Linked DNA regions of Homo sapiens. The protein of the gene in region 4 purifies or fractionates together with the protein of the main gene of each other region. This does not show direct contact. Each region holds a gene or a part of one and is shown on either strand. Other genes may lie near its edges. The genes, in order: FGD6, DEPDC1B, KCTD15, KCTD3, AGAP1, TRAPPC6B and CRTC1.

Region 1 (3,500 bases), on a different chromosome or scaffold from region 4:
TAGTGGACTAAGAACAATCTAAAGATTTCCAAAAGGGTCCATGTGCTTTTTTGTTAAACACAAACAAACATTAGAAATACAATGGAAAAGCTACCTATGCGACTATGGAGAGAAGGAAGCCGCTGCAGTGGTTGCTCTCTTGGCCTATTTTCATTCATTCTCTCTTAGACCCAATCAACATCTACTGATTCTACTAGGCCTCTTGCTTGGCTTTATCCAGGGCAAAGAGATGACTAGAACTCTTCATGGAGCTTAAAACCAAATACAGAACATCAGACATGCCAATAAATAGTTATACATTAAGACAGCCTGAGATGAAAGGATATCACAGCATAACTGGGTGGTCAGAATAGGAAGTAAACACTTCTGACTAGGTAATTGTAGAAGCTTAATGAAGCCAAAGACTGAGGGGGTGGATTATTGAGGATGGGCACGATTTTAATAAGAGAGATGGAGTAGGTATTCCACAGGTAGGAAGTGCACACACAAAAGTGAGAAATAGGCCCAGTGTAGTGACTCATGCCTGTAATCCCAACCCTTTGGGAGGCAAAGGCAGGAGCAGTGCTTGAGCCCAGGAGTTCAAGACCAGCCTGGGCATGATGGCAAAACCCTGTCTCTACAAAAAATACAAAAATTATCTAGGCATGGTGGCATGCACCTATAGTCCCAGCTACTCAAGGAGGCTGAGATGGGAGGACTCCTTGAGCCTGGGGAGTCGAGGCTGCAGTAAGCCATGATCATACCACTGCACTCCAGCCTGGGTGACAGAGTAAGACCTCATCTCAAAAAAAAAATTTTTTTTTAATTAAATTATTTTAAAAGTGAGAAATAAAGAGTAGTTACGTGTTTCCTGCATTTTTCCTATATCCACTTGAGGTCAGCAATTAGCCATCAACAGGTAAAATGACCAATCTTCAAAGAGTGGTGAACTTCTAAAAATGTGGAGGTTCCACCTGATAAGCGCACCACACGTAAATGCCTACATATTTCAGTAACTTCAGACTTCTTATACCTAGCAAATAAATGTCATTGAATTGGCCAATTTCCTGCCCCAGGTTTCCTGATATGACTTCTGAGCTGGTGTCTGGAGGCCCAGGACCTCTCTGTTCCACGCCTTCCTTGCAGCAGCACCTACATTGCCACTGGTTCAAATTCTTTGAATCGGTTACTAAAATAAATTAACTACTTCAAGCTTGTATTGCAAATACCCATTCCAACTGTATGCTAAAAGGAGGCTGCACTTGAGAATAATTACACATTTTCTAAACTATTCCTTCAACCACGTGTTTTTTTTCCCCCTGCATTCCTAACTCACCAGGCTGTTGAAGGTTAATTGCAATGATGCATGCAAAAGTGTCTGTCTGGCACCTGTTACCTGGAATGCTGATGTCTGGGTCCAAGCTGCAGCTGGCCATCTGGAGCTTCATACGGCTCTTCTACCTCATACACATTTGCATCAGCGTCCTCCATGCTGCTGGAATTCTGCCATTCCAACTCTTGAGTTTTCCGTATAGCCATAATAAATGGCAAGTTCTCGTACTCTGGTATTTCCTCATAATGGCGTATATTTTCATACTCCGGTGCACAGAGGCTTGTAACAGACTTGTAAGGTGCCTGAGATGATGACTCCCGGGAGAGCATTTGGTCATCCAAAGACTCAGCTCTCAGACCATTAGCTGCACTGGTCTGGCCCCGAGACTTCTTCCTCTTCTTTTGAGATTCCAGGCTATAGTTTTCTGTGGAATATGCCTTGATGGGTTTACTTCTCTTCTCCTCTCCTACCAACAAGCCTTGCCAATCACTTTCAATCCCCTTCTGCTCCCCACTGGAGAGGTGGCCTGTGGTGGTGTCTCCGAGTTGGCTACTCTTGGACCAAAATTTTTGAAAGTCACTCTTCATGAAACAGATGGACAGTTTCATGCTGAGCAACTTTTTAAAAGAGTTTTTCTTTGTAGAGTCTTTGCAAGGCTTAGTGCACTTTTCCACATCCATAGCAGATAACGATTTTGCTCTGGGCTTGGTTAGGGCTGTTGAAGGCTCACTGTTTGACGATACGGTGACAGACTTTAAGAATTCTGGGTTCCCTGAAAAGGGTAAAATAGGATGAGGTAACTTCCACACTGGCTTTTCTGAAGCCCGTTTAGGCATATCAAAGGAGGATGACACACCACGGTTTTGGGCACACAAATGCTGAAGGTGATTTCTTTCTAGACTCTTCTCTGAACTTTTTTCTTCACTTGAAGGATAAGAACTTTTTTCCAAAAGCTCCTCGGAGGCAGCCTTTTTAAGCACTCCTGTAGCAGGCAAGCTATGTCTTTGAGGTTTTTTGGGGACAATTCGTAGAGAATTTTCCTCTTTTATAACAGATTCCTTTTGCATTTGAGGGGCAGAAACTCCCAGGTTTCTCCCAGATTGCAAATGTTCATTGCAAGTTAATTTGAGCTGCTTAGGCAGGCTCATAGATACAGTACATCTTATAAAACCGGTCCCTTCGTCCACAGCAAGCGACATACTAGAACCATCTACAGTTGTGCTGTCAGAACTCAAATTAGAGTCTTTATCAAAAGAAGGTGCCATTTTTTCAAAGGAAGTTGTTTCATTACACATGGCTTTCTGTGAATTGACTAAGTCCTGTGCATCACTGTTGGATTCCATATTCAATTCACTTTTATTTCCTAGCTTCATTTTATCCACCTGTTCCTGCTTACACAAAACATTCTGATGCAGAACACTGATTTTATTGATTTTCAAACTATTTTCAGTAAGACAGGAAGAGCTACTGTCTGAATTCCCCGGTTCTTCAGTGCTTTCACTAGGAGTATCTACACACTTTTGGCGTAACAGACGAGCAGTTCGTGTCTTTCTGGGCTTGGGAGTTGGAAATTTTGGGGTATATGGTACTAAATGAATTTCTAAGGGACCAAGGTCTTTGACTTCTGATTTCTTACTAACTCCATCTGAAGATATTAAAGTACTCCTTTTCCCATTTTCCAGAGCCTCTAGTTCAGATGACTGAAAGCAATTATTGCTTTTTTCACTGTCATCCTGGCAAGTTTCAAAATGTTCACATTCATCACTAGGAAGCTGTAAGTGGCAACTGTGATGATCAGGAACTTTTTCAAAGCTGGATGGGGAAGGTGACAAATCCGCAAATTCAATTCTGAATTGTCCATTTGAATTACAGCCACCATTCATTTCTGGGCTGTCTGTGGGCCTGTGCTTCTGTGCAGAAATAAAAGGTGGCATTTGGTGTATTAAGGCATCTTTGAGCTCCTCTTCTAAAACGCTTGCCTTTAAAACAACCCCACCCTGGTTCTTGGCTTTTTCACCATACAAATCACATTTACTCCTAGTTTTTATAGTCAAAGTCTCATCAATTTTACTGTTTTCTAAATTTTCATTCATTTCCAGGGGCTCTAAAACAAGCTGCTTTACACACAAATTCTCTCTATGGCCCAGCTTATGGATACACTCAGAACTGCAGGAACACATTGGTGAAA
Region 2 (3,500 bases), on a different chromosome or scaffold from region 4:
TGATAGTGTTAGCCTGGCTGCTCCTGGTTCGGGAAAGAGTGCTATGAAAATTGAGATATATCTGTCTAGTGTATGGGAGGAGAAAATGGCTGTATTTGGTTCTATATATTTGTCATGCCTGGTTGATGGTTTGTATTTTCTATAGTGATTTGTGAGTGACAATGGATCTATATTCAATTGACCCAGTATAGTTGAATATGTGAAAATATTTTATGTAATTTTACTAATATATATTTTGTTAAAATACAACCATATAGAATCTACTAGGCTATAGGTGTTGAAAGATAACATTTTTTTTTTTCTAAATCAGGTTTGTTACAGAAGGAGAAAGTGGCAGTTGAAGCATTTCAGATTTGCTGCCTTCTCCTACCTCCTGAAAATAGGAGAAAGTTACAGCTATTGATGAGGATGATGGCAAGGATTTGCTTAAACAAAGAGATGCCACCCCTGTGTGATGGCTTTGGTACCCGAACACTGGTAGGTTGATTTTTAACATCAGGTATGACTTTTTGGAATGAAAGTCGACTGAGTAAGGTGTATTAGTTTGGGTGATCAGAGGGAAGTACAAAGCAGACTTGCTTAAAAGAGCCACAGTCAGTGTCCACCCAGACTTGTGTCGTGCTTTTGTTCTAAGTGTCTTAAAGAACATAATGAGAAATGGAGACTTGAGTAGGGGCAGACTCTGTAGAGAGATCTGCTACATCCTGTTCTCCCACTTAAAATTATTTTAAATTTATTCTTAATTGACAACTAATAATTGCATATGTGATGTTTTAATTCATGTATACATTATAGAGTCAATCAAGCTAATTAACAGATTCATTACCATACCAACTTATCATTTTTTTGTAATGAGATCATTAAAAATCTATTCTTTTCTCAATTTTGAAATATACAATATATTATTATAATTGTCGTCACCGTGCTGTGCACTAGAGCATTAAGACTTGATCCTCCTGTCTCACTGGATCTTTGTACCCTTTGACCAACATCTATTTCCATGTCCCTGTATCCCCCAGCCTGTGGTACCTACCATCTAATCTCTGCTTCTATTGGCATATGTTTTTAAAGAGAGTTTATTTTAGAATTTACTTACTAGCAAAATCTCTTGATTTTCCTCAAAAAATGTCTTTGAGCAAAACTGGTGCTTCAGTGGAATGTATGTGCTTTCCATATCCTGTTAAAACACCGTGTACTCCCTGGGGATTCACTGGCCCAGTTTTAGAAGTAATAGAGTGAGATCAGAGGAGCACTTAGTGCCCAGTAGGATTCTTGATCTCTATATTTTTTTGGAGTGAGTGGATGGTTAGAGAGGCTAATAGACCTTTTTGAAAAGCTGAAGAAAACTTTATATCTATTCTGCATATAAAATACACATGCAAAACTTTGCATGCAGTTTCAAGGCGATCACAGAGTCCCTGGGGTCCATGGTCTCCAGGCAAAAAATTCTCTGCCTGTGTGTCTCTCTGTACATGTAAATGTAAGTGAAGATCATTTGCAGTGTGTTAATGAAGTGTTACTAAGCAGAATTACATGATTTTTTGCTTAAAGATTTTGAAGGAAGATTGTCAGCGATAAAAGTAGTAGGAAAAAACAAAACAAAACAAAAGCCAGTCCAAAGAACAGTATTAAGAATGGAGTAGTTAGGCTGGGCGTGGTGGCTCACTCCTGTAATCCCAGCACTTTGGGAGGCCGAGGCAGGTGGATCACCTGAGGTCAGGAGTTCTAGACCAGCCTGACCAACATGGTGAAACCCCGTCTCTATTAAAATTACAAAAATTAGCTGGGCATGGTGGCAGGCGCCTGTAATCCCAGCTACTCGGGAGGCTGGGGCAGGAGAATTGCTTGAACCTGGGAGGCGGAGGTTACAGTGAGCCAAGATCACACCATTGCACTCCAGCATAGGTTACAGAGCGAGACTCCGTAAAAAAAAAAAAAAAAAAAAAAAGAATAGTTAATTTCAATTCTATGGAAATTATTACATTGATGCTATAATATATTTTGCATTTCTGCTTGCCTCAAAGAGAGTCTCATCACTTAATGTACTTCTTGAAAAGTCCCATGGCTTTGTTCAAAGATGATTGTCAAATATACATCGAAAATCCTAGAGAAAATAAGCTAACTAGGAAAAGATGTAATGGTTGAGGCATGTGGACTGTGTTAGCGGTTTAAAACAAATCAATAATGAAATTAGGATAAATAATAATTGACTAAATGGCTATAAAGTGCTTTGAACTTAGTAGTGCTACATGATTCAAGTCATGGTGATAATGATTTTCAAAATTTGTTTTCATATATTTATATGTGTGTATGTGTGTGTATATATATATATATATATATGTATATTTAAAATCGTGTAAAAGGAGGTTTAAAAATTGCTCAGATAAGCATCTCTCTGCAGTCTCTTAACAGGAAGATGCACATTTTGTTTGTTCTGGTTGTTGAGACCGTCAACCCATCTGAGATGGCTGGGTACTCTTGGTAGAATATGCACCCTGTGCCTTAGACCATTTCTCATATTTGCCTTTTGCAAATTAGATTGCACTCAGTTCAGAAAAATACTCATCTGCGTTTACCCCCCACCCCGCTCTTTTTTTAGATGGTTCAGACATTTTCCCGTTGCATCTTGTGTTCCAAGGATGAAGTGGACTTGGATGAGTTATTAGCTGCTAGATTGGTAACGTTTCTGATGGACAATTACCAGGAAATTCTGAAAGTCCCTTTGGCCTTGCAGACCTCTATAGAGGAGCGTGTGGCTCATCTACGAAGAGTCCAGGTAAAGGAGAGGATATTATCAGTTCTATGAAATTGGCAATATAAAGTCACGTAAGCTTGCTAGGCTTCTTGGGGCATTTTATTATGAGGATTAAGTGAATTAATGTTTATAAAGTACTTACAACAGGTCTTGGCACATAGTAATCCCCTGCATGTGTTTGTATTATCATTGAAAAGTTTACAGAATGCACATTTGGTTTTGTGTATCAATCCATGTGGCATATTTTTTATTGCTAATTCCTTGAATGAGTTTGTTTAGAATCTACATACACCTACTGATGGAAATGATTTTATGTGCAGTAAGTGTCTTGATTCATAATTGCCCTGTGACCTAGTTTAATATTCCCACTTTTTGCATGAAAAAGCTAAGGCACAAAGAACTTAAATAACTTCGCTTAAGGCCACAGAGCCAGAATTCTGACTGTTGCAGTCAGCCTCTGTAATCAGTGCTCTAAACTATCATTCCATATTGCCTGTCTAAAAATCATAGTACAGTAGAAGAACACTGGCATGAGAGCCATGAATCCCTGGCCAAATTCCTAGCTGTATCCTTTCTGTCGTGTGACTCTGGGCAAGTCCCTTAACCGCTTTGGATTTTACTTTCTTTCCTCAGGCGTTAAAATGGGCTATTCTTTCTTTATAAAGTTGTGAAGATTAGAACACTGTACTTTACAATTCCTAGGATGAATTTCTGACATATGTCAGGTATTCTTTGAAAGGTAGCT
Region 3 (3,500 bases), on a different chromosome or scaffold from region 4:
ATTCGCATGAGAAAACTGGAGCTGGGGATGGCTCCCTGAGCTGGGGACCTAGAAGACGCTGCTGACAGATGGGCCCCTTCATGGTGGGGCCCATTCCTGAGGTAACGTGCAGCCCTGAGGCTGGTCCGAACGGGAGGAGACTTCTCCAGCAGCCCAGGTGCCAGTCCACACAGACAGGACTGGAAGCCCCTGGGCAGCAGGTCAGGTGACCCGGGGAGTGCAGCCTGAGCCCCCAACGGCAGCAAACGTGAAGGTCTCAGGTGGTTACAGAATCACTCAGCCCTCAGGCCCCCACCACTCTCCTCCCAGCAGCCCTGCAGCACACATCCCTGCATCTGTCCCGAGAGCCCCAGCCCTGCAGGCATCTGGGCCTGAATGCCAGGCAGCTGGTCCACCCTGCAGCCATGCTGCACGTCTGACTGAGAACTGAGCACCAGATAAAGAAGCATTGGTCCTTGTCAGCCTCTCTGACTTTTGCAGTTAGGGCTGCATCCATTTTAAATACTGTAGAAAATAAGCCATCTCTCGGACGCTAGGAGACCCGCCAGAGTCTGCCCCGCGTGGAGAGGGATAAACAGCTCCTCTGAAGTAGCTGCAGACGGCTCTTCCAACCCCGCCCCAACAGGCCCCGGGGCCTCAGAGGATGCTGCGCCAGGCTGCGAAGCTGAGGGGCTGGGAGAGCTGGCAGCAGAGATCCCACCGCTGTATCTTTGGGTCGCATCAACAGTCCTTCTGCAGGCATGCCTCCAGCATCCCACGTTCTGTTGCCATGACACCTGGGACCCTGGTGCTCGCTGGGCCAGCTTTGGACCCTCCAGCCTCACCCTCGGTCTCATGCCCACGGCCAAGTATACACAGGCAGAACTCCCCAGCACTGTTTCCAGGTCCCTGGGGGGGCCCAGGTGGGCACTGAAGCAGGGCCTAGTCCAGGGGTTCCTGCTTGATTCGAACAGCAGTGGGGGTGGGCTGCGGCCGCCGCTCCTCCCGGCAAAGCACATACTCGCTGAACTGGGAGGAGTCCACACCGCCCCCACAGGACGCAGCCACGCTGAAACCCCTCTGGAACAGCCGCTCCAGGACCTGCCCAGGAAGAAACAGAGGTCATCAAGGCCAAGCTGCAAGAGGACACCTGGCTTGGCCTGGCAGGGAGGTGGGTGCCTGCTGGGGCAGCCAGCAAGGGCACCTTCTCCTGTGACGATCTCAGTCTTGCTCACTGACAAAGGTCCCTACAGAACCACGTGCTGGGTTCCACCACCAGAGGGACAGAAGTGGCCAGGCCCAGTGACCCCTCAGGTTAGCAAACCTAGTTGGACGACCCCACCCAGGCCACCATCCTGCTGCCCTCAGGGCCTTGATTCCGGGAGGCAAAAAGAGGCTTTGGGTCCCTTCTTTATTCTGTAGGGTGTAACCTATGCCCTCTCTCCAGACACATGGCCCCAAGTGTCCTCCCTGAGTCCTGCCCCAATAATGGAGAGTTCCCTGTCCTTCAGCCTCTAGGCATCCACCAGCTTCCCTGAGCTGTGCATTCCAGGTGGTTTGAAGCCTGGGGGTGCATCAGCTCGTGGGAGCTCTGGAGGGAGAGAAAAAGGAGAAGTCCTCTCAATATTTGAGTCTCTGCAGGCGTCCACAACTATGTGGGTTTGTGCCTCTGTGAGGGTGAGGTCTGATGACTGCGTGTAACACCCGTCTCCTGCAACTAGCAAGTTCTGACCGACAGGCTGTGGAATGCGTGCACAGGGGGCCCTCTTCCCTGCAAAGCCCATTCCACCCTAACCCGGAAATGTGCCAAGCTCTTGGGTCTGCGAAGAGCTGTTGGAAAATAGGCCCTCACTCCATCTGAGCTGTCCAATTCTTGGACCCATCCAGGAAGAGCCGGTCCAGGGATTCTCTTGGCAGCTGGTGGGTGCCTGCGACTCCCAGGTCAGCAGGGAGAGGGAAGGGGCTCCAGACCACCTTTCCACTCAGCCTCTGTCCTGCCTCGCCTGTTGCCTGGGTTTAGTTCGAATCCAAAGTCAGACTCTGGGTGTCAAATGAAGCACGCTTTGTTGAAAATACTCTGGGCCATTTTTATAGAACATCCTTTTGGAAAAAAAAAAAAAAAGTACAGATCGATTTTTTTAAGTCCATCCCCCAGGCGCCATCATTTAATTATGAGAGGGACATAAATTATGCATCGACACATTGTTGCCTTTTTTGTAGGATGGCACGGGGGGCTTCACCGTTTCAGGGATCGCGCCTCCCTCCAGCTCACTCTGCCCCTGGAGGGCTCCGCGGACGCCGGGGGTGCGGCGGGGAGGGGGCAGCGTGCAGCCCTCACCTGTACCGAGTTGAGCCGGCAGTAGCCATTGAGCGGGAAGCGGATGACGTGCGTGGGGTCCTGGTTCCAGCCGGCGTTGACGGAGTTGCACATGACGTCTCCGGTCTCGGGGAAGACCTCCTCGATGAGGGCCTTCTCGCCGCTGAGTGCGATCCGCTCGCCCAAGTCGGGCGTGACGCGCACCACCAGGCAGTCACAGGCCCGGCTGCGGCGCCGCTGCTCCTGCTCCTGCTGCCAGCGCTCCAGCTCGCGCACCATGGGCTGGAGCTGATAGTAGCGCGCCTCCTCGTACAGCAGACTGAAGTCCTGGGGACAGGCGCACAGGGTGTTGATGTGGGTGTCGGAGTAGGGGTGGTGGGGGAAGGGGGAGAGGGGAGGCGGCCTGCCGGTTCCAACCAATTCTGCAGGAACTGCGACTCGCAGGGTATTGTGTGGACTGGGCCGGTTGCACCCATTGTACAGATGGGGCAACTGAGTGGTTTGCAAGTATAAAGAACCTAGCCTTGTCCCAAGGGCAGCCGCTGATGTGCACCTGTGCCAGCCCCCCTGAGCCCTTCCATCTGGCCCCAGGCACTGGGCAGTGAAGCCTCCCCATGGAAAGACCTGGAAGCTCCACTAAAGGACGAGGCTGTGCCTATGCCTGGGGACCTGCTGCTGCCTTAGAATCCCACCGAGAGAAGAGATCATGCTGGGCACAGGGCAGCCGGGCCTAGGAGCTCACAGCCTACCCGGAAGCAAAAAAAGTTCTTCTCCAGCCAAGCCTGCCTGGGTCAGATTTTCAGCTTCATCATCAACCTGCCCTGAGACCTCTAAACCTCTATACCTCACTAACTGAGCCTCTTGGTTTTTTTTTCGTTTTTTTTTGTTTTTTTTTTTTGTTTTTGTTTTTTGAGACAGACTCTCTCTGTCACCCAGGCTGGAGTGCAGTGGCTCGATTTTGGCTCACAGCAAACTCCACAATTCTCGTGCCTCAGCCTCCCGAGTAGCTGGGACTACAGGTGCCTGCCACCACACCCGGCTAACTTTTATGTTTTTAGTAGAGATGGGGTTTTCCCATGTTGGCCAGGCTGGTCTTGAACTCCTGCCCTCATGTGATCCACCTGCCTCGGCCTCCCAAGGCGTGAGCCACTGCGCCCGGCCTCAGTTCCCTTATGTATAAAATGGACATAAACAACCAGCTCAG
Region 4 (3,500 bases):
TGTCTTGAGGTACTAAATCTGCAATTAAAAATCATCTGGTATTATAAGTGAGAACATGATTTGAAATTTCAGTATTAGTTAACTTGTTTTAATACACTGGCTAATGATTTACAAGATGTTTTATAGTTATAGCTGTACCAATATATTTATTACAGTTAATATTTTTAAACGTTGCTACTTTCAATTCAGAGTTAAGATTATACAAGCAGCTCTCAATAACAATAAACAACTTGTTATCCGCCATATAATGCATCTTAAAACACTACTTTCCAATAAGCTAATCTCTGCTGAAGAATCAACAATTAGCCCATCACACCAAGTCTCAACTTCTCAGTATAACATTCAAAATTACCTTCAGGTTCCATCTCATCTCTCCAGTACAAATGCTGGTTTTCCCCTCTAATAGGACAAAACTTCTTCATATCCCCAAAAAATTCATGCTTACTACCATTTTGGTATCTTTATTCAGCTAGATCACTCTCTTCATGTCCAATAATTCAAGATCCGTCCATCTTTCTTGATACCACTCAGGTTTTACCTTCCCTGTAATAGTTTTTCTAAATATCCAATCCTGTATTATCTCTTTTTAAGCTCATAGTAATTTCACTGTAAATTACTCATTTAACACCTTCTTTATAGGCAGTCTTGGGCTATCTGCAACTGCTGACTTCATTCATTCAAAAATCATTCAGCCAAATACATCACTGTTCTGAGGTTGTCATTTGATCAAGCTTGTATATTACCAAGGGAGGATCTTTACCAAAGTACAGTATAATAGACTGGGACAACAAACCAATAATTTATGTAAACTGATATGGCAAACAAAGCAATATAGTACTTGTTCAGTCCAGCCCTTCTCTGAGTATTTTCATTTTAAGATATCACCTTGAACTACAATGTTATCTCACCCAGCCTAGCAAACCTCTACTTTCACTCCACATTTATTTTCTGGCATTATATGAAATCCCTAAATTTATTTTTACCTTTCATACTTAAACTAAACAAGGTGACTGAATAGTGGCACTAGTTACCATGCACTATCACCAGGAAACACAGGCCAAACCCCAGCCAAAATGGCTAAGGGATGTTTCCCAGGCTGTGCATGTATACACTGTATCATCCATCTATTGTCTGCCATTACCTAAATTAGCAGCCTGGAATTATCAAAAACGTGGAAGTTGCTTACTTTTTTTTATTATGCTCACTGCAGCATAACAAACCTCAAAATACATCCTACTTCCCATTCCCATCTTCTAAGTGGGCTATTAAATAGCACTGGATTGCAGGCCAGGGTGACTGTGACTACCAAGGCTTATACAGAGTAGTGTCAGAAGTCTCACAGATCTCTCAACTTTGCAAGTCCATCCAGGCACCTGAGGCAACAATGGCTCATAATATTTTACATATCTTGATAAATGGATTATCTGTAAATTCACTTTTCAAACTCAGTTTCAGAAATGGATTTTGTATTAAAAAAGTAGATGTTGTTTTTTCTTAAAGCCAGAGAGGACCACCTAAAAGCATTGTTCTTAGCACCTAGCACACACCCAGTAAATGTTTATTGAAACTTATGTGTGATAAACAGAATCACACTCTAAAACTCAGTTAAATGTTCTGTACAAAACGGAGACTTGATTCTTCTGTACGATCTGCAGGCATTTTATGGTTACAACAGAGCACTTTCAGAATACACTGGTGTTGACACACAGATGTCACTAAACTGCCCACTTAAATCATTTAGCAGTATCAGTCTCAGTGTCAGTAACAGCAGAAGCCGTGTATGCACTGTTCCATAAAAAGTGCCTTAGTCTCCAAAATAAATTTTCTATCATTATCAAAACATGCTTTCCAATCACAATTAAAAGTTTATCTCGGCTAGGCGCGGTGGCTCACGCCTGTAATCCCAGCACTTTGGGAGGCCGAGGCGGGCAGATCACGAGGTCAGCAGATGGAGACCATCCTGGCTAACACGGTGAAACCCCGTCTCTACTAAAACTACGAAAAATTAGCCAGGCGTGGTGGCGGGCACCTGTAGTCCCAGCTTACTCAGGAGGCTGAGGCAGGACAATGGCGTGAACTCAGGAGGTGGAGCTGGCAGTGAGCTGAGATCGCGCCACTGCACTCCAGCATGGGCGACAAAGCGAGACTCCGTCTCGGAAAAAAAAAAAAAAAAAGTTTATCTCCACTTCTTCCCACATACAACTTTACAATTTGTAAGGAAAAGTATTCTTTCATTGGCTAACTGAAGGAAAGACAGTAAAACAATTCATTTATTAAAGACATTTAAATGTAAACTACAGTAAGGGGTACTTTAGGGAACACATAGAAGTTGACTACTAACTAATTTCACAGGTTATGGACAGTCTAGGTGTTTATAAGCAGTTCCTACGCCCATTTATCTGATTAACAAATGAGTCACTTTAAGAAAACACTGCAAATGCTCCTAAATGCGTTTCTTAATAGACTCTTAAGAAAAATAAAAAATACACAGATTACCCCAGTCACAGAAAACTGACTTGGTCCAAAATCAAAGCAAATCCACTCAATGGTAAATTGAAGGATCCAAGGATTCATACATTGCAGATTCACTGTTTTGGAGGCCATCAAATTCATTCCAAATGAGGACAGCTTATAACTTGCAATCTTTTATATTCACCACTTATTCACCAATTGTATTCCAAATAATTAAAATTATGTGCTACTTAGAAAATCACAAAGGTCTGCTTAAAATCATATTATCAGTTTCAATTTTAATCAGCATTTTGGGGAAAGGTTAGTAACCTGGAATTTCTGGGCAAAGGAATTAGACCCTCATCCCCACCAATTTTTTTTTAAACTTCTGGCCCCAAAACCAGTCTCGAATATAACTTCATGAAAACTAACACACTTAAAATTACACATGATGAGCATAATCATTTGAAAGCCTTTTCTGTTTTGATTTGTTTTTTATCCCATACCCATAGTGTCCCAAGAACAGAGTCATGTACAATCTGGTTTCAGCAAAGGACTAAAGAAATTTGCATACCCACAGTTATACTTCATGCAACTTGCCTCCTACTAAATTAACTTGGTAGCAATCTAACTAGTTATTTATTCTGCACTGTAAGTACTGATAATGCCACTAACCCTTGCATTTCACATTTATTACTTCAAATTCCTATAACAATCTGATAAGATTGGTACTACTGTCTGTCACTTTACATTTTAATAGACTAAGTATCAAAATATTTGTCCAAGGTTGCTAGGCTAGTTAGAGATAAAGCCTGGGAATTGGAAACATATACCTGACTCAAAAGCTCTTTGTCCAGGAGTCCTCAATGGCTAGTCCCAGCCCTCTTGCATGAGGCCCAAAATCACACTTGCCCATAACAGAATTAATCATAAATTCAGTCATAGTGAATTCACTTCATTACTTTTTGTAAATAACGAATACTAACAATTCTAAATGAAACTTCATCTACTCTACTTTCTGAATCACCCACAAAGTATTAAACCATAAA
Region 5 (3,500 bases), on a different chromosome or scaffold from region 4:
AGTCTTGGTACACACTCATGATTATTTACTAAGAATAGATTCCTGGAAGTAGAAGTTCTAAGTGAAAGGATATGTACTGGATATGTACCTTTTTCCCCACCTAGAGAGAGGGTCTTGCTCTGTTGCCCAGGCTGGAGTAGTGCAATCATAGCTCACTGCAGCCTCCATCTCCTGGGCTCAAGTGGTCCTCCCACCTCAGCCTCCTGAGTAGCTGGAACTACAGGTGTGAACCATGCACCTGGCTATTTAAAAATTTTTTTGTAGAGACAATGGTCTCCCTATGTTGGCCAGGCTGGTCTCGAACTCCTTGCCTCAAGTGATCCTCCCACCTTAGCCTCCCAAAGCACTAGGAGTACAGGCGTGAACCATCGTGTCTGGCTGATATGTAGTGTTTTTGAGGCTTATTTATTAAGTATGCATTTAATATTATGGTTAAAGCAAAAATTGATCAATTTCAGAGGACAGTTACAATAAGCTTGATTTTTGCGTAAGAATTCTTCATAAATTGAAACATCTCATCAAATTGATGTGAAATAATATATTACTTGCTACATAATAAATTATAATGTATTAATCACTACTGTCTAATTAGCATCATGCGTTATTGAATTTTAATTCCCTTTGGTTAGATACCCAAGTATTCAAAATATGTTTAAACAGTTTACACTGGCATCTGGAATGCAAGTGTGTGATCACACACACACACACACACACACACACACATACAAAGGGATGTGCCTCTGTCTCTCTGTGTACCTGTATCATTTCTGTGGTTGGTTGGTTTGTCTGTCTGTCTAGCTATGCCTATACCTGTATCAGCTCTCAATTATCCACTGGCAGGTAAAATACTATAAAGCTGGTGGTCAACTGGGCCTGTATTTTTGCCTCCCGCTACTCCTTGTGGACAGTATTTCCATGTTTTATGCCCTCACACCTGTTCAACCAATGCCCACGATGACCAGCTCTGAGTCGGCCACCTTTGGTTGCTCAACGCGTCCTCCTCCCAAGGGAGCAATTCCCTGGAGAACAGGCGCCTAGTGAGGGCCGAGGGCAGCATTCTAAGGCTGGTGTGTGCATGAGCTGAGACACGAGTCAGGAGGAGCCTGGCAAGGTGTGGAATGGGAAAGGCTGCCACCATCCCAGATCTTCCTGAATTAGGTCGAGGTGGCAGGGGCTCAGAGTCTGCCGTGAAAGACTGTGATTTCTCCATGAAGGCAGGAACCTGTGCCTCTCTGTTCGGTAACACAGCCTGCCTCCCTGCCTTCCTTCTCAGAATGAGCTGCCCACGCTTGGAGGATGCTGTGTGCTGTTGCTTCCCATTGAGGTGGCCCCAAAGCACCCTGTGCTCGTTTCAGGAGGCACATCATGGATGCATGTGGACGTGACCCAGTAAAGCCAGGGTGTATGGAATGAAAGGCAGTGGTTCTCCCCACCTTGAGTATAAAACATCTTTTAAAAAGGGAAGCAAATTACATTATAATAATAATGACTGTGGTCTGGTTTACCCTGGTTAAAGAGGGTAATAAAATAAGACACTTCATCTTTCTGAAAGACAGACTCTCTTTTTAGTGACAAAGCTGCACATAAATCATAGGCAGAAATTTCTTTAAATGGTTACAAATGAAACTGCAGGTCGGTGGGTAACATCCTTTCTCTTAGTTTCTAGTTGATCATAGTCTGAAATATCAAAATGCTCTCCAAAAGTCTAAGACGTCCCAGCAAAGAGGTTAAAGACAAACAAACATTAAAATAATGAAACTGAAGCAATCCTTGATGGGAAAAAGGACTTTTGTAGAAGGAACATCACTGGGCAGTAGCCTAGAGAACACAGGTTAAGCCAGGCGTGGTAGCTCATGCCTGTAATCCCAGGACTCTGGGTGTCTGAGGCAGGTGGATCGCTTGAGCCCAAGAGTTTGAGACCAGCCTGGGCAACGTGATGAAACCCCACCTCCACAAATAATATATATTACATAAATAAATATACAAATAAATAAGCAAGCAAGCCAGGCCTGTAGTCCCAGCAACTCAGGAGGCTGAGGTGGGAGGATTGCTTGAGCTTGGAGGTTGCAGTGAGCTAAGATTGTGCCACTGTACTCCAGCCTAGGTGACAGAGATAGACTCTCTCCAAAGGAAAAAAAAATACAGGTTAAAATATTTTTCCTTTTCTAGCTAAGTAACTACAAAAAACAAATTGCCTCTCATTATTTTTTTAATATAGAAACATTTGGGGGTGGCGTTTTCTGGTGAGAACCAGAAAACCTGCTGGACAAATTCTAAAAGAGCTGCACCACCACCTCTAATTATTGAATAAAACACATACCAGGCTTTATCAGTTTAGATAATAGAAACTTTATCTTCCCAAACTCCCTGCACGCTCATACAGACCCATCTACTTTTCATTTATGTCCCTAACAAGAGACGGTTTTCCAACTTGATGTCGATTTGAATTCTGGGCATTTACTTGAACAGTGCATCTTTTAAGTCCGTCTCTCTTTTTTTCTGAGTGTATTCTGTCCAAAACAAAAATAAATGTGGACCCAGAAGCCACAAGAGTCCAAAAGATTCCCTCTGGGATTGGCTGACAGACTGAAGATTTAACCTTGGCTCTCCTGCCAGGGAAGCACGGTCAGGCTGGAATACTCATGTATGATGGTATAGACACAAAGTGCTTCTGATCGTTTTAGTTATTGAGCTTTCTGCTCATAAAGAATAGCTAGGTCCTGTCATTCACACTGGTCCTCTATTTTCTCCTCCCTGGGGCATTACTTGGGGCCCGCACTCCCCCTGAGCAGCCCCAGCCTTGGTTTTGGGCAGCCAGGGGCCTCACCTTGTTCTTGCTGCTCTCGCACGACTGCAGGCTGGCCAGGATCTGGCTCTCGATGGCTTGGACCCAGGCGTCCCGCTCCTCATACGTCGTGGCTTCAAAGTGCCATGTTTGGCCAGTGAGGGACACAATGATAAACTCAAAATTTTCTTCTTGTTCTGAAACACAGAGTGTGGGATGAAGAGTTTAGCTTTTATGAGACAGCAGTCCCCCTGCGGGCCCTCTGTCACAGAAGCGCCTCTGGGTTCAGCTGCCCCTGCATGGACCGGTGAGGCGCACGGCACTGGACAACCACGGCGGCGGAGATTTGAATCCATGCACCTCCCAACAGTCCAGATGTGGTTCCTAAGGCCAGCATGACTTAGCCAGGTTTCAATCAAGGCTCAGGGCACAAGGCCAGATGAAATCAACGAGTGATGTCAGCGTCTCTGTGTGGTGCACACACAAAGCAACTTAGGAGAATAACCATGTAACTCATGGCTGACCATCCTTATCTGTGGGACGAAAATTAAGTTAGGGCCGCTAATCTCCGGCTGCAGGGTTAATTTCTATCTAAGCACTCGCGTAGATCCACAGACACTCCATGGATAGAGGAACGCGGGAAGGTTCTGTTCTTTTATGGCAGAGGACCTGTTACCGTGGGAGAGGCATCAATTCCCACGTTTTCAGACAGGGA
Region 6 (3,010 bases), on a different chromosome or scaffold from region 4:
TTAAGTTGATTTCTTTTTTTTTTTGGAGACAGAGTCTCACTGTGTCGCCCAGGCTGGAGCGCAGTGGCTCCATCTTGGCTCACTGCAACCTCCGACTCCCGGGTTCAAGCAATTCTCCTGCCTCAGCCTCCCAAGTAGCTGGGACTACAGGCGCCCACCACCACACCCAGCTAATTTTTGTATTTTTTTCAGTAGAGACAGGGTTTCACTGTTTGGCCAGGCTGGTCTTGAACTCCTGACCTCATGATCTGCCCCACCTCGGCCTCCCAAAGTGCTGGGATTACAGGCTTGAGCCACCACACCCGGCCTTAAGTTGATTTCTATGTATGGCATTAAGGCAACAATCCAATTTCATTCTTTTGTATGTGGATGTCCAGTTTTCCCAACACTATTTGTTGAAGAGATTTTACTACATTTCTTTGTTTTATAGTTTTCCTTTATGATTTCCTACATTTGTGTGTTGGAAAGGCCTTCTCCACCACAAAATCACGAAAGTATTATCACATTTTCTTTAGTACTTTATTGTTTTACAAGTGAACCTTTAAGTTTCTCCCCACCTACTCCCGCAGAAAAAGGCATATTCAATTGTCCCATACTAATTTTTGAATAACCTAACTCTCCCTTTGTTTCTACTAAGAGAGGTTTCTTTTTGGCTACAAGTAACAATATACATATACCCAAAGCAAATGGAACAATATAAAGAATATCTCACATAACAAAAAGTCCAAAGGTAAAGCAGTTCCTGGATTGGTTAATTCAGAAGCACAATTCAGGTGCTTTCTATCTACATCCCACTATTCTCAGTGTGATAGCTTTCATCTCCATACTTGTCCTTTCATGGCCATCAGAAGGCTGTTGCAGATTAGCTTCAAACATCCATATCACATATCTTCACTGAGAAGCAGAAGAGGGATGCTGGCAAATCCCTAACTTGTATCAATTGTTAAGAGCAACAGAAAATTTCTTATTCAAAGCCTTCAGACTTCCTTTGTCTCGTTAGCCTAGATTCCATCAAATGATCAAGTAAGCCAATTACCATGATTGGCACAGAATCTAATCAACACTCACCCTCTCTAGGCTAGGGAAGCACCCTATTCTATAGCACAAGGCAGCCATACAGAGTTTTAGGCCAAAAAAAAAGAAAAAAAAAATGGGGCTTTGTCAGCAAGGAAGGGAGAACGAAATGGCTGATGGGTAGGCATATGAATGTCTAACAAACCAACTTATTTGAACCCAGCTTTTTCACACACACAATTCTCACACCTGTTTTATTTTGAAGTTCTCTATTGTGTTCTATTTTGATCTACTTCTGTGTCATTAGCTATTCCTGGGTCATTATGACTTTTAATAAACTTTATACATGTATATTTGGTAGGAACTTTCCTAAATTTTTTCAAAATTAAAATTTTTTCCCCAAAACATGTGAGAATTAGGATTGCAGTCATGCATTGCTTAGCAAAGGGGATACATTCTGAGAAATGCATCATCATTAGGAGATTTTAAAATTGTACAATCACAGAGTGTACTTACACAAACCTAGATGGTATGATCTACTATACACCTAAGCTATGGCCTATTGCTCCTAGGCTACAAACCTGTACAGCATATTATTGTAGTGAATACTGTAGGACACTGTAACACAATGGTAAGTACTTGCATATCTAAACATAAAGAAGGTACAGTAAAAATACAGTATTGTAATCTTATGGAACCACTGCCATATATGAGGTCTGTCACTGACTGAAACATCATTATAGGGCACATAACTAGAATTTAATAAATCAAGTTAAACAAATTATCTTTGTAATACTGTACCCTTCCATGAAAGGAAAATGGTATGCTTCTAACTTGAGTTTTCTTTAATGTCCTAAAGTACATTTTTATAGTTTTTATTTTGTGTTTTTAATATAATGTTTGGTATAGTCAATCTTCTTAATCTGCCATTTCTATGGCAGAGTACCCAGTGAAACATCTTGTTTGGTGTGTCAGTCACCCCCTGCTGCAGAGTTCCCTGTCACACAAATACATGCAAAAGGGTAATAAATAAATGGGAAACAAAGTATAGTTTTAGTAATCAACATGCAAGATTCTAACAAAAGCTGGAGATAACTGCTTATGCCAGATAATTTAAGTAAGAGAAAGTAAGTAGAAGAGGTGGTAAGAAAGATATATCAGATGAGCACTGACCCCAAACCACTAAGATGATATGGTCCAAAGAATGTCAGAATGACTAATTCAATTATCCAACTCTGCTCAGCTGGAAGAGGAAAGAAGGGAATAAAGATGTTAGATCCTTTACCAGGACTTCCATGCACGGGGAGAGAAGTTGAAAGTCAAAACTGTAACAGGAATAAATACAAAAATTCTTTCCAAACATACCTAATATTCTTTGGCCCTAGAGTCACTGAATTCACATTTAAACTAATCTATATTTCATTTTGATTACATTAATGGAGCTCTGAAGGAATGAAACCTATTAAAGAAAAATTAAATTTATAAACAATTTAGGCAGTCATATATGTATTTATATATACACACATACAATGTATATATGAAATCCTTATACAGGTGTAAACATTCTTAATAAATTATAAGCAATAAAATAAAAAAAATTTAGTATGTTTGCTTTTTAAAATAAAACAAATTCATACTTTATCAAAATTTGTTCATTCTTCTCACAAATAATTCTGTTGGTACATAATTTTCTCTCATGCTAATTCAACAAACCCTGAGCTTTGTTTCTCCATCTATGGCTAAATACATATCACTCTAACCAAATAAAAAGGTTTAAAATAAGGGCCCTGCATCTTGGTGTCTGGTTATTTGAAATCCGGTTTTCATTTTGAATAGTTTTGGTTAAGTGTATGTCATGGCAGAATGTCCCTTCATCTCCTTTGATCTGTGTTAAATTGATAAAAATACATGCTTACTCCTGTACAAACATCGAACAATGTAATTAAATCATCACTACTTGAAATACTTTTACATGAATAATTTATCTCTTTACACT
Region 7 (2,577 bases), on a different chromosome or scaffold from region 4:
CCGTCCTGAGGGGGAAGTGAGAAGGGCTCAGAGAGGACAAAATAAAGTGTGTGTGCAGGGAGTGGCGGCTGTGGTTTTTGCTGCATGGAGACAGTAGGGACGGGCCTCTGAGGGAGGGTCGGGCCAGGGAACCCCAAACCAAGGCCTCAGTGCTGCAGCTGCTGCTGAGTGCCAGTGGCCTGCCAGGGACTGTCCAACTGTGATTTGGGATTTGGGGAGGCCCCTGGGTCCACCTCCACGACCCACCACCTCATGGTCACAGGCCTGGATGCCAGCCATGGAAGAGCTGAGACCCCGATACAGTGTCCGCCCCAGGATTCTGGGGGGCAGGTTCCCAGTTGTCCCAGCTTTGGGGACCCCTTCCCTTGCCTGGTCTGGGGTGTGTGTGTGTGTGTGTGTGTGTGTTCGGAAGGGTTGAGGCACCTGCCAGTGCACCTGCCACGCCCATGTGTCACCCCTGAGGGAGGAGGGAGGGGCTCAGAAAAAAGAGGAAGAGCCAGTGACGAAAACGTTGGATTTTTATTACGTTTCATTACAAAGGATGCAAAGGTACAAAGACAAAAGCAGCCCTGCCAGAGGATGGGGCAGGGACGGCCGAGTGTGCCCTGAGCCGCCTGCCCCCGCCCGCTGCGGCCGCCCACAATCATGGCCCACGGGACGTCCGTGGCAGAGTATACATGCTAGGGTTGGGGGAGAGCCAGCCTGGGCACAGAGGAGCACAGGCAGGAACAGGGCTCGGACCGGCGGGTTTGCATATATCAGTGGGGCCACCCAGCCCCTAGGGGACAGTTTCCTACTCAGGGGCACGGCAGGGCCAGTGGACTTTGGCTGCCAAAGCCCTCCCTCCCCAGGCCTACTGGCCAAGTCCATGGCTAAGTCCCCTCCTGGTGGGCAGGAGATCAGAAGTTCTTGATGGCTGGGCTGGGCAAGGGTTGCCCCCAAATTCCAGAACACTTCGAGATGGGGGCCATCCCCCGACCCCAACACATGCCACCTGTCCCTGGCTCCTGGGGGTGGGGTGCTGGCCAGGAGCCCAGAAGGTGGATACAGGCTCTGGAATCATCAGAGCCAGCACCACCCCAAGGCCCAGCCCCTGCCCCCCATCCTGCCCAGGAGGAGCCCGGGGCCCTGAGACCTGCAGGTTTGAGAAAGTGACAAGAGAGAAACTGAGGCTGGGATCACGAGGCACTCACTCCTGCCCCACCCATGCCCTCAGGAACTCCCCAGCACCCAGGCCTGGGGGTACAACTTACTCCACCTCCTGCTCCCAGGGGGAGAATGGTGTCTGTGGCCAGTGGGGGTGGGTGGACACCTGTGCCACACGGAAGAGTATGGGGTGCCTGACCCCTGCCTGGCCAGGACCCTGGAAGGCCAAGGGCCGCAGGGAACAGGACACTTGGCTCAGGTGGAGCTGACGGGAGAATGTCCCAGGGACCCCCAAATCACATGCCGCAAGAGCCCCCAGGAAATGGAGGCCCCTGGTCCATGGTGAATGGGGGTAGAAAGAGACCCAGGTGTCCATGTAGCCCAGGCAGGCCTCCCAGGGTGAGTGAGGGGCCGAGTCTTGCCCCTGCTCTTAGGCTGTGTAGGGAAGGCTCTGGCGCCCGCACGCCCTGGCCCAGGGCACCACATGTGGGTGACGGGCCAGGCCCAGGGGCACATCTGTGCCATCGGCTTTGTGGCCCTTGCTCTGAGAGCCCCTGCGTCCCACCCCCACACAGAGGGCCCCTCGGCCTCTGAGACGGCTCCATCGGGACCCAGTGAAGGTGATGGGAGCTGCTGTTTTCAGGGCGAGGTGACAGAGGACCCCCGAATACCGCTGGACCTTACTCCACCAGCCTCTCCCTGGTCGGAGGGCTCCTTGGAAATACAGAAAACTCAGGAAGCAGGTCGCAGCCCGAGTTTGGAAGGATGTTTGGTTAAAAACCAGCTCAAGGCCCACCTAAGGGAGGCACCAGAGCCCCCTCTAGGGACGGGTCCTGCCAAGGCTGTTCAGGCCTGGGATGCTGGGCAGAAGTGGCTCACACCTGTAGCCCCAGAACTTTGGGAGGCCGAGGAGGGAGGACTGCTTGAGCCCAGGAGTCCGAGACCAGCCTGGGCAACACAGCAAGACCCCATCTCTAAAAAAATAAAATAGAAGCCACCCGGCCTGGCCCCCCATGGGCTTCTGGCAGGCTCCTGTCCCACCTGACCGGGCTCAGGCGAGGTCCCAGCTCACAGCCCCCAAGCCTGACATCCAAGCCCCAGCAGGAGGGATGGATGGACATGGGGGGCCCTCCTGGCTAGGGGTCCTCCCGGGAGCTTGGCCCCCTGAAGAAATCAGGCCAAACACACTGATGCCAACACTCTCCTCCCCAGAGCCGAAAACCCACAAGCAGGGCCCTGATGAGGGCAAAGAACCCTCTTCTCTGGAGGACACAGAGAGAGGCTGAACTTGGGCTACACCCTCTGCCTGCAAGACTTGCCACCCTGGGTAGTGACGTCGGCGAAACAGGAAGGTGGGGACGCCATGCTCTCAGGAGGGAGAGCCCTGGCTGAACTTCGCCGTAGGGGACCGATGTACCCAGCAGAGGGTCT

The links.
Region 1: the proteins of KCTD3 (region 4) and FGD6 purify together in Homo sapiens (affinity purification with mass spectrometry, with the first as the bait; one large-scale study listed by BioGRID). This does not show direct contact.
Region 2: the proteins of KCTD3 (region 4) and DEPDC1B purify together in Homo sapiens (affinity purification with mass spectrometry, with the first as the bait; one large-scale study listed by BioGRID). This does not show direct contact.
Region 3: the proteins of KCTD3 (region 4) and KCTD15 purify together in Homo sapiens (affinity purification with mass spectrometry; 2 studies listed by BioGRID and IntAct, with this or other methods). This does not show direct contact.
Region 5: the proteins of KCTD3 (region 4) and AGAP1 purify together in Homo sapiens (affinity purification with mass spectrometry, with the first as the bait; one large-scale study listed by BioGRID). This does not show direct contact.
Region 6: the proteins of KCTD3 (region 4) and TRAPPC6B purify together in Homo sapiens (affinity purification with mass spectrometry; 2 studies listed by BioGRID and IntAct, with this or other methods). This does not show direct contact.
Region 7: the proteins of KCTD3 (region 4) and CRTC1 purify together in Homo sapiens (affinity purification with mass spectrometry, with the first as the bait; one large-scale study listed by BioGRID). This does not show direct contact.

What each region holds. Positions count from the first base shown.
Region 1 is NC_000012.12:95,207,468-95,210,967, forward strand, and holds part of FGD6 (FYVE, RhoGEF and PH domain-containing protein 6), read right to left. Parts: coding exon 1,376-3,500; intron 1-1,375. UniProt on the Homo sapiens protein: May activate CDC42, a member of the Ras-like family of Rho- and Rac proteins, by exchanging bound GDP for free GTP. May play a role in regulating the actin cytoskeleton and cell shape.
Region 2 is NC_000005.10:60,602,667-60,606,166, reverse strand, and holds part of DEPDC1B (DEP domain-containing protein 1B), read left to right. Parts: intron 1-310; coding exon 311-477; intron 478-2,599; coding exon 2,600-2,776; intron 2,777-3,500.
Region 3 is NC_000019.10:33,810,370-33,813,869, reverse strand, and holds part of KCTD15 (BTB/POZ domain-containing protein KCTD15), read right to left. Parts: intron 2,624-3,500; coding exon 2,318-2,623; intron 2,080-2,317; coding exon of another isoform or gene 2,068-2,079; exon of another isoform or gene 1,081-2,067; coding exon 922-1,080; coding exon of another isoform or gene 498-921; 3' UTR 1-497. UniProt on the Homo sapiens protein: During embryonic development, it is involved in neural crest formation. Inhibits AP2 transcriptional activity by interaction with its activation domain.
Region 4 is NC_000001.11:215,570,304-215,573,803, reverse strand, and holds part of KCTD3 (BTB/POZ domain-containing protein KCTD3), read right to left. Parts: intron 19-3,500; coding exon 1-18. UniProt on the Homo sapiens protein: Accessory subunit of potassium/sodium hyperpolarization-activated cyclic nucleotide-gated channel 3 (HCN3) up-regulating its cell-surface expression and current density without affecting its voltage dependence and kinetics.
Region 5 is NC_000002.12:236,036,043-236,039,542, reverse strand, and holds part of AGAP1 (arf-GAP with GTPase, ANK repeat and PH domain-containing protein 1), read right to left. Parts: intron 2,983-3,500; coding exon 2,828-2,982; intron 1-2,827. UniProt on the Homo sapiens protein: GTPase-activating protein for ARF1 and, to a lesser extent, ARF5. Directly and specifically regulates the adapter protein 3 (AP-3)-dependent trafficking of proteins in the endosomal-lysosomal system.
Region 6 is NC_000014.9:39,147,314-39,150,323, forward strand, and holds the end of TRAPPC6B (trafficking protein particle complex subunit 6B), read right to left. Parts: 3' UTR 501-3,010; downstream 1-500. UniProt on the Homo sapiens protein: Component of a transport protein particle (TRAPP) complex that may function in specific stages of inter-organelle traffic.
Region 7 is NC_000019.10:18,780,257-18,782,833, reverse strand, and holds the end of CRTC1 (CREB-regulated transcription coactivator 1), read right to left. Parts: 3' UTR 501-2,577; downstream 1-500. UniProt on the Homo sapiens protein: Transcriptional coactivator for CREB1 which activates transcription through both consensus and variant cAMP response element (CRE) sites.